Homo sapiens: one gene and its partners. The protein of the gene in region 1 interacts with the protein of each later gene in a pairwise test. Each region holds a gene or a part of one and is shown in the gene's direction. Other genes may lie near its edges.

Region 1 (3,146 bases):
ACCCCGAAACCCTCACCAGTAGCTGGGACTATAGGTGCTGCCACCATGCCTGGCTAATTTTTTTTTTTTTTTTTTGTCCATAGGGACTGAGTCTTACTATGTTGCCCAGGCTGGTCTTGAACTCCTGGCTTCCAGTGATCCTCCCACCTTGGCCTCCCAGTGTTGGGATTACAGGCATGAGCCACCATGCCTAGCCTGGTGATGTTTTCTTAAACTGGCTAAGTTTATGAGTATTTATTATACTTTATAATTTACATATTATATTATTTTCCAGATATCGAATATTTTATATATATATATATATCTTTTTGAGACAGGGTCTGGCTCTGTTGTGCAAGCTGGGGTGCGGTGGCACCATTGTAGCTCAATGCAGCCTACAAGTCCTGGGCTCAAATGATCCTTCCCCCTCAGCCTCCCAGGTAGTCAGGACTACAGGTGCGCACCACCATGCTTGGCTAATTCTTTAAGATTTTTTACAGAGGTGGGATCTCGCTTCTTTTTTCTTTTTTTTTTTGCCTAGGTTGGTCTTGAACTCCTGGCCTCAAATGATCCTCCCACCTCAGCCTCCCAAAGTGCTGGGATTACAGGCATGTGCCACCGCGCCCAACCCTCAAATATTGTATTGTAAAAGACAATGAAAAGCATACAAAACAAAAATGATCAGTGAGAAGCTAGGTGGCGTCAAATGCCCGGGCAAAAAGGGGTTAGGTCTGCAGCGCTATACTCAGATGTAACTTACAGATGCAACTAGCGGAAACAGCATTAAATTTGTTAACTCAATGCTTGGTGGCCAGAAATTCATGTCAGGATAATTCATTTGAGCACAGACTAAAGGGTTTGGACTTGTAGTTATAGTCCAAGTTTCTCAAACTTGCTGGGTTTTATGAATCATCTGACACTTTAGTTAATAATACAGATTTCCAGGCGACTCCCTTATAGATCCCTTTTCTGTGGGCCTAGGAAGCAGCCAATCAGTATTTCATGGGTTCGGTGCCACCTATCCCAACTTGACAATGAGAGATCGCTCTGCATGCCAGGTGAAGGACCTGACGCTGGCGGGCGGCGGGGACTACCAGGTCAGCCCCAGGAGAGCCGGCTCCGGCAAGCTCCCCCAAGGCATGGCAGGAGCCCAGTGCAAGTTAGCACAGTAAACCCAATCAACAAGCCGCAGTCACCCCTCTTCCCCAGAAATGGCCTCTTCAGCTCTTGCGGGGGAGACTCTGAAAGTCCCCAAAGGACAGAAGTCTAGGAGGAAATGATTGCCGCAGAAAGGGATACAGTCTTGGCTACTAAAAACCGCGCGGAACCGCCTAGGGACCCGCTCCCAACCACCCACCTCCGGTGCTTCTACCCCCTCCCTCGCAAACGCGAAGAAAAGAAGAAACGCGAGATCCCAGTGCAGAGGCGTGGTCCCACCCTGGCCAATGGGAAGTGAGGGCGTGACTTTAAGTCTTTCTTTCATTGGCCCAGGGTCCCAGGCCGTCCAGGTCTTGGGGCGCCGCGGCGGAAATCGCGCGGATGCCAGAACGCGCTCTCAGCTTCGGGTCCTGCGGCTGCGGCTGCCGCCATCATGGTGCGGAAGCTTAAGTTCCACGAGCAGAAGCTGCTGAAGCAGGTGGACTTCCTGAACTGGGAGGTCACCGACCACAACCTGCACGAGCTGCGCGTGCTGCGGCGTTACCGGCTGCAGCGGCGGGAGGACTACACGCGCTACAACCAGCTGAGCCGTGCCGTGCGTGAGCTGGCGCGGCGCCTGCGCGACCTGCCCGAACGCGACCAGTTCCGCGTGCGCGCTTCGGCCGCGCTGCTGGACAAGCTGTATGCTCTCGGCTTGGTGCCCACGCGCGGTTCGCTGGAGCTCTGCGACTTCGTCACGGCCTCGTCCTTCTGCCGCCGCCGCCTCCCCACCGTGCTCCTCAAGCTGCGCATGGCGCAGCACCTTCAGGCTGCCGTGGCCTTTGTGGAGCAAGGGCACGTACGCGTGGGCCCTGACGTGGTTACCGACCCCGCCTTCCTTGTCACGCGCAGCATGGAGGACTTTGTCACTTGGGTGGACTCGTCCAAGATCAAGCGGCACGTGCTAGAGTACAATGAGGAGCGCGATGACTTCGATCTGGAAGCCTAGCGGATCTCCCACTTTGCATGGCTGTCTTTTACAGATGGGAAAACTGAGGCCTGATGCTGGAGATTCTATGAGGGTGCTCTCCTCAAGGGTATCAGACGGTCGTAGGTTCTTAAGAATTTGATTCATCAGTGGCAGGCCATGCATAGAGCCACGGGAGGTGCGTCCTTGTTTTCCAGGGAATGTTCTTAGAACTTGGACTACTGATTATTAATTGACTGTGCCTTGGGAAACAGTGGGAAGTAACTTGGTGCAGCACTGGGGTATTGTTGGCTTCTTGTGTTGGAAACTTTGTAATGTAAAAGGAAAAACTGGAAATCCCCACGCCCTGTTTCCCTTTATCGTCTTGTGGTTGGACTGGTTCAATTCGTTTAACTCGAATTCTTGCTCCTGGCCGTGGTTAAGCTGTGTACAGATGATGGAGAGTTTGGCCTCAAGTTTTTATAAACTGAGCGAGACTAGTGTTCAGGATCTCCTCCCTTGTTTAAATGTCAATAAATGCCCCAACTGCTTTGTAAGTGCAACTTTTTAATCTGTCTGGTTTTCTTTTTTTCTCTAGAGACGGAGTCTTGCTCTGTCACCCAGGCTGGAGTGCAGTGGCGCGATCTCGGCTCACTGCAACCTCCGCCTCCCGGGTTCAAGCAATTTTCCTGCCTCAGCCTCCCGAGTAGCTAGGAGTATAGGCGCCCGCCACCGCGCCCGGCTAATTTTTGTGGTTTTAGTAGAGTCAGGGTTTCACCATGTTGGCCAGGCTGGTCTGGAACTCCTGAACTCGTGATCCGCCCGCCTCGGCCTCCCAAAGTGCTGGGATTACAGGCATGAGCAAACTGCGCCCAGCCTCTGGTTTTCTTACATAGAGTCATATTTATACGTCCCAGGAGCCCAGAGAAGAATAGAGTCAGCAGCGAGTGACCTGCCTGTGGATTAGATGTGCAACAGGGCCACATGTGGAGGATGCAGGATGTTGTACAGGATTGGGCAAATTTGTCACTTTACCAGTCCCTTCCTTGGAATGAGTGTTTTG
Region 2 (3,654 bases), on another chromosome or scaffold:
ATATGAAATCATCATCATATATATTATCTAAACTTTCTGCACCAGAGATTTGCAAACTTGTTCTGTAAAGAGGCAGATAGTAAGTTTGTTAGGCTTTTGTGGACTATAAAGTCTTTGTAGCAACTACCCAACTGTTCAGAAAAGCAGCTATGGACAGTAGATAAATGAATGGACATGGCCAGATTTGATCCAAGGACCTTAGTTTGTTGATGCCTGCTCTATATTCTAGTTTATTTTTATTTTTTGACAAAAACTGACAGGAGATATAATACTTTTTATAATTAGATGACCAGGGAGAAATAGAGAAAAAAGGCAGAGAGAACTTGTTTAGATTTTTGGTCTAGTACATATTAATATATTTTTAAAATACCCCCATCTCTGATTTTAGCTTCATATCCAGGGGATTCATTATTACAGTTGCATTTCCAGTACTTTATGTGTGGTTTAACATTATTTGAGTTTTGATTTGTTCATATGACTTTTTTGTTTTCCCTCTATAGTGAAGCCCAAGAGCCAAAGGAATCACCACCACCTTCTAAAACGTCAGCAGCTGCTCAGTTGGATGAGCTCATGGCTCACCTGACTGAGATGCAGGCCAAGGTGAGTGCAGGCCAAGGTGAGTGCAGGCCAAGGTGAGTGCAGTCCAGATGATAAACAGGGCCCATGGGGTCACCAGTTTATCTTTGTGGAACTCAGCTCTCCATTCTCCCACTTAGGAATTTTCCTAAGTTGTCATTGCTTTTTTCAGACTAAATTTAATTCCATGAATTAACCCATCTTTGTACTATGTGTTATTTGGACACAAAAATTAATATATAATACAGACTTTGATCTCAAGGAGCTGGAGTGTGCTTGGCAAAATGAGGCATAAGTTTCTTAACATTTATAGAATAAAAGCCAGGTGTTTTGCAAACATATGTGGAGCAAACATTACGGATATAGAGAGATTTTGGAGATTTAATCAGAGTTGAAACTTGGGATGGACTCTGAAGAACTGGCAGAGTTTGGACATAAAGAGATGGGAAGAAAGGTGGTTTTAGTTGCAATGAGTCCTGAGGGCAGAGGTATCTAAGGCTTGATGATGTGGAAGGATTTTTCATTTGTTTGTTTGTTTGTTTGTTTGTTTTTGAGATGGAGTCTTGCTCTGTTGCCCAGGCTAGAGTGTAGTAGCGCTATCTTGGCTTACTGCAACCTCCGCCTCCCAGGTTCAAGCGATCCTCCTGCCTCAGCCTTCCGAGTAGCTGGGATTACAGGTGCCCACCACTGTGCACGGCTCATTTTTGTTGTATTTTTAGTAGAGACGGAGTTTCACCATCTTGGCCAGGCTGGTCTCGAACTCCTGACTTCGTGATCCACCTGCCTCGGCCTCCCAAAGTGCTGGGATTACAGGCGTGAGCCACTGCGCCCGGCCAAAAGGACTGTTAAAGAGACCTGACTAAGCAGGACAGAGGAGACCAGTGAGCAAGCTGAGACACAGCAAGGGAGATCAAAGTATGGCTCTGACAGTAGGAAGGATGAGAAGTCCCAAGCCCATATTGAGATAAAATCTGCCTCTTTGTTCTAGCCTCTAGAACACCTCTAAAGTGGTGAGCTCACATAGTCGGGCATGGAATGGAAATCTCAGATAAATGGGCTTAAAGATTTATTAAAGGAAATATAATCCAGAATCCTTAAGGTGGAGAATCCAACCATTTTAAATCTGGTTGGAGGATTTGATATATACTCATGAGATGACTATGAAATAATTTCAAAGCAGTATATAAAAATGTATATGATTGGAGAGGGCAGGGACCTTATCTTTAGAGCTCACCTTGGGACTCCCAATGCTCAGCACAGGGCCTGATACATCGTGAGCAACACATATTTATTAGAGAGATGAGTAAATAAACATCACAAACAAGTTTTCCTTAATGACTGACATCCTTTGATGGGCCAGTGTCTACAATAAAGCTGGGTAGATTGGCTCATTATGCTGTATATCTGAAAATACTAGAAAAAATGTACATTAGATTTAATTGTGTTGCGTTTCTAGTTGATTTAGCTTGTGTATTGGTTGATTTAAATTTTTAATTTACAACACCATCTTTTTTTTTTTTTTTTTTTTTGAGACAGATTCTTACTCGGTTACCCAGCCTGGAGTGCAGTGGCATGATCTCGGCTCACTGCAACCTCCACCTCCTGGGTTCAAGCGATTCTAGTGCCTCAGCCTCCTGAGTAGCTGTGATTACAGGCGTGTGCCACCATGCCCAGCTAATTTTTGTATTTTTAGTAGAGACGAGGTTTTGCTATGTTGCCCAGACTGGTCTCAAACTTCTAAGCTCAGGCCACCTGTCTGCCTCGGCCTCTCAAAGTACTAGGATTACAGGCATGAACCACTGTGCCCGGCCCCATTTATCTTTTGAATAAGCTGCACTTTCACATTGTACACAAATCAAAAGTGCAAAAAGCTTGCACTGAACTGTTTCCTTCTCAGCTCTGCACCCTAGCCATCCAGTTCTGCCCCACCGGAGATAGGCAGAATTTCCTGTCTCTTCTATATCTGTTCAGAAGTATTCTGGAAGATAACAGTGAAGAGATAGAGATGTAGGTGTAGATGTAGTTATATTGTATTTTTACTTATTTTTCATAATTAATGTCAGTCACCCTTTCAGACCTTTCAGACACTAACCTTCTGAACACTAACCTCTTGAATATTAACTAACATATATTAGAGAAGGAAGGATGTCTGTCAGATGATCAAAATGTCTCGAAGCAAAATGAGCATTTTGATTGGTGACAGTGTGATGTTATAACAGGCAGTAAAAGTAGGATAAGTAGAGGTCTTAAGGCAGACAGTAACAGATCACATTCAGGAGATGAAGAGCCCAGCTGTCCTTTTACAACATAGTATTAATAAAAGATGAAATTGGGAAAGATAAAAAGGGAGGACAGTGGATGGGAGGCTTTGAATGTCTGTCTGATGAGTGAAGACTTGATGTGGTGGCAATGGAGAGCCATTGTAGTTTTCTGATGAGTGAAGTATTCAGTAGATAGATGGTAGCAGTCGCCCAGCTGGAAAGGAGTAGAGAGAGCCAGAATCAGGTTATGAGGTTATGAAGGGTCAGTTAGCCTTTTTTTTTTTTCTTTTAATTTGAGGATCCTTCTTTGAATGGTTTATAATAATTTTGGGCTTTTGCTTAAATAATTCCAATCCATCAACAAGTCTTATCTGACCACTTCTCACCACCTTCTCCTGTAATACTGATCTAAGTCATTATCTGAAAATCTCCCTGTATTCACTCTTGCTTGTCAACACTTAGTTCTCCACTCAGCTACCACAGGGATCCTCCAGATTCCTTCACTCCTGTGCTTGAAATCCTGCAATGGCTTCCATCACCTTGGAATAAAACCCAAGCGTTTACCATGAGGTTCCTATGTGATCTTTGCCTCTCTCTCCATCACCTTCTCCTGCCGTGTTCAATCTCACTCCCTCTGCTCTAGCCCCACTGACCTCTTTGACTTTTCTTCTAATGTGCCAAGTTGTTTTATTCCTCGGGGCCTTCCCTTCCCCTAGAATGCTTTTCCCATAAATGTCAATATTTCTAAGTCCCAAGTATCTACTCAAATATTACTTCCTTAGAGGGGCCTTCTTTGATTATTACCTCCATCTAAATC
Region 3 (3,654 bases), on another chromosome or scaffold:
GTAAGATGGAGTCTCACTCTGTTGCCAGGCTAGAGTGCAGTGGCGCGATCTCGGCTCACTGCACCCTCGCCTCCCGGGTTCAAGCAATTCTCCTGCCTCAGCCTACTGAGTAGCTGGGACTATAGGTGTGTGCCACCATGCCCGGCTAATTTTTGTATTTTTAGTAGAGACAGGGCTTCACCATGTTGGCCAGGGTGGTCTTGATTTCTTGACCTCATGATCCATCCACCTCGGCCTCCTAAAGTGCTGGGATTACAGGTGTGAGCCACCGTGCCTGGCCTTTTTTTTTTTTTTTTTTTTTTTTGAGACAGAATCTCACTCTGTTGCCCAGGTTGGAGTGCAGTGGCACGATCACGGCTCACTGCAATCTTGATCTCCCAAGACTCAGGTATTCCTCCTGCCTTAACCCCCAAGTAGCTGGAACTACAGATGAGCACCACCATGCCCAGCTAATTTTTGTATCTTTAGTGGAAATGGGGTTTTGCCATGTTGCATAGGCTGGTCTCGAACTCCTGGGCTCAAGTCATACACCTACACCAGCCTCAGCCTCCCAAAGTGTTGTGATTACAGGCATGAACCACTGCACCCAGCCTGAGATTCTTAATTTTAATGAAGTATACTTTATCAATCTTGTCCTTTATGGTTACTGCTTTTTGTGTCCTATTTAAGAAATCAATGCCTAACCTGAGAATATGAACATATTTTTCTGTGTTGTCTTATAGCAATTTTATTTTACTTTTTGCAAAAAAAATTTTTTTTTTTTTCAGACAGGGTCTGAAGTGCAGTGGTGCAGTCTCAGAACACTGCAACCTCCGCCTCCTGTGCTCAAGCATTCCTCCCACCTCAGCCTCCTGAGTAGCTGTGACTACGACTACAGGCATATGCCACCATGCCTGGCTAATTTTTGTATGTTTTGTAGAGTCAGGGTTTCAACATATTACCCAGGCTGGTCTCAAACTCTTGGGCTCAAGCAATCTGCCCTCTTCGGCTTCCCAAAGTGCTGGGATTACAGGTGTGAGCCACTGTACCCATCCCCTACTTTTTGCATTTAAGGTATATAATTTAGAGTAAATTCTTGATGAATCGCAGGGGTCAAGATTCACTTTTTAGGCCGGGCGTGGTGGCTCATGCCTGAAATCCCAGCACTTTGGGAGGCCGAGGCGAGCGGATCATGAGGTCAGGAGTTTGAGACCAGCCTAGCCAACATGGCGAAACCCTGTCTCTACTAAAAATACAAAAATTAGCTGGGCGTGGTGGCGGGTGCCTGTAATCCCAGCTACTCAGGAGGCTGAGGCAGGAGAATCGCTTGAACCTAGGAGGCAGAGGTTGCAGTGAGCCGAGATTGTGCCATTGCACTCTAGCCTGGGCGACAGAGTGAGACTCGGTCTCAAAAAAAAAAAAAAAAATTTACTTTTTTTTTTCTTTGAGACAAGGTCTCACTGTATCACCCAGGCTGGAGTGCAGTAACATGATCTCCACCTGCTTTGACCTCCCAAAGTGCTGGGATTTAGGCATGACCCACTGCACCGGGCCAAGATTCACTTTTTTCTATATAGACGTCTGTTTGATCCAGCACCATTTATTGCAAATACCATCCTTGTCCATCTGCACTGTGTGGCACTTTTTTTCATAAATTAGATAACAGTATGGTCAGCTAATTTATGAAATTAGTGTGGGTCTGTTTCTGGATACTTTGTTCTATTTGTATATTTGTCATCCTTGCACTAATATCACTGTATTAATGTAACTTTATAATAAGCTTTGATATGTGGTAATATAAGCTCTCCAACTTTGAGAGGTGGGCAAAGAAAGTGGGCTGTGGGCAGGGGCTGCTTTTCATCAAACACACTTCTGTTTAACCCCTTGGCTTTCAGCCTTGAGCCTTACTTTACTTTTCTTGAGTCTGGAGTCTCACAGGTGTATTAGTCTGTTCTCATGCTGCTATGAAGAATACCCAAGACGGGGTAATTTATAAAGAAAAGAGGTGTAATTGACTTACAGTGCCATATGGCTGGGGAGGCATCAGGAAACTTACAACCATGGTGGAAAGCACCTCTTCACAGGGGAACAGGAGAGCGAATGAATGCCCAGCAAAGGGTGAAGCCCCCTGTAAAACCATCAGATCTCGTGAGAACTCACTCACTATCACAATAACAGGGTGGGGGAAATTGCCCCTTTGATTCATTTATCTCCACCTGGTCCTGCCCTTGACATGTGGGGATTATTAACAATTTAAGGTGAGATTTGGGTGGGGACACAGAGCCAAATCGTATCACCAGGTCAGAGTTTCTAGAAAATAAATTTATGAGATAGGAATGGTGGCAGAGGAGGGAACCTAGACTAGAGTCCAACTGTACCTTACATAAACTTTAAACCATTTACTTTCTCTTTAGCCCCATGCCTCTCCACTGACCCTATACCTGGGAACTCCTAGGCTCCTAGATTCTGAGCCTTTCTGTGATTCTGTGAGTTAGCCAAATCAGCTTGCTTCTTTTTATTTTTTAAATTAAAAAAATTTTTATATCACTTTATCTGGCAGCCTTCTTCTGAGCCAGAATAGGCTCAGAGAGACTCCTCAGCTTGTTTCTTGATTGTATTCCCTTTTGCAGGCCAGTAGGTTCAGCCTCCTCTACTCAGTCACTTATTTCTCCATCTCTTCTTGTTTCATGGGTGCCATATCTGTTCTTATCTCTCTGAGAATGTTAAAAATCGTTTTCTTAAGCCTTTCTTTTTTTTTTTTTGAGACGGAGTCTCAGCCACCCAGGCTAGAGTGCAGTGGCGTGATCTCGGCTCACTGCAGCCACCATCTTCCGGGTACAAGCGATTCCCCGTCTCGGCCCTCCAAGTAGCTGGTATTACAGGCATCTGCCATCATGCCCAGCTAATTTTTGTATTTTTAGTAGAGCCGGGTTTTCACCATGTTGGCCAGGCTGGTCTTGAACTCCTTACCTCAGGTGATCCGTCCACCTTGGCCTCCCAAAGTGCTAGGACTACAGCTGTGAGGCACTGCACCTGGCCTAGACCTTCTTTTCCTTGCATAGTTTCTTCCAAGTTACTTTTTTTCCTATTTGGTATAGTCTTATTAGTAGAGGCCCTCCTCGGAAGACTGGTAATCCTTGGTTGTCTGTTCATGATTAACAGTGGGCTACTGAAAGCTGATGGGAAGTCCTGAACTTGTAAGTAGGACTTAAGGACATGTTGTTTTACCCTATATTCTAGAGTCTAAAGCAGTGATTCTCAGCTTCGGCTGCACATTATAATCACATGGAGAATTAAAAAAAAAAATCCCTGCTGCTAATACGTCAGAATCTCTGAGACTAGGTCCCAGGTAGGGATAGTTAAAAAAATTAGGTGTGGCTACATACAGTAAAATGCACAGAATTTAAGTGTATAGTTTGATTTTTACCATGTAACCGATATAAGATGTAGAGCATGGCAAAAAATTCTAGAAAATTCCTTCATATCCCTTTCTTCTGTTGTCTCACTCCCAGCCTAGAGGTGACCACTATTCTGATTTCTATCTCCGAAGATTAGCACCAGTATTTTTTAAAGCTGCCAAGATAATTCCAGTGTGTAGCCAAGATTGAAATAATTGATCTGGGTGGATTGTTTGAGGCTGTCTCCACTGTATTTATCTTTCCTTTTGTCCCAGTC

What was found.
Region 2: the proteins of IMP3 (region 1) and LPXN interact in a two-hybrid assay, tested with the Homo sapiens proteins (one large-scale study listed by BioGRID and IntAct).
Region 3: the proteins of IMP3 (region 1) and EVI5 interact in binary tests that used the Homo sapiens proteins (3 or more experiments, as listed by UniProt).

Annotation. Positions count from the first base shown.
Region 1 is NC_000015.10:75,638,593-75,641,738, reverse strand, and holds IMP3 (U3 small nucleolar ribonucleoprotein protein IMP3), read left to right. Parts: upstream 1-1,514; 5' UTR 1,515-1,570; coding exon 1,571-2,125; 3' UTR 2,126-2,646; downstream 2,647-3,146. UniProt on the Homo sapiens protein: Component of the 60-80S U3 small nucleolar ribonucleoprotein (U3 snoRNP). Required for the early cleavages during pre-18S ribosomal RNA processing. Part of the small subunit (SSU) processome, first precursor of the small eukaryotic ribosomal subunit.
Region 2 is NC_000011.10:58,551,787-58,555,440, reverse strand, and holds part of LPXN (leupaxin), read left to right. Parts: intron 1-500; coding exon 501-600; intron 601-3,654. UniProt on the Homo sapiens protein: Transcriptional coactivator for androgen receptor (AR) and serum response factor (SRF). Contributes to the regulation of cell adhesion, spreading and cell migration and acts as a negative regulator in integrin-mediated cell adhesion events.
Region 3 is NC_000001.11:92,778,605-92,782,258, reverse strand, and holds part of EVI5 (ecotropic viral integration site 5 protein homolog), read left to right. Parts: intron 1-3,654. UniProt on the Homo sapiens protein: Functions as a regulator of cell cycle progression by stabilizing the FBXO5 protein and promoting cyclin-A accumulation during interphase. May play a role in cytokinesis.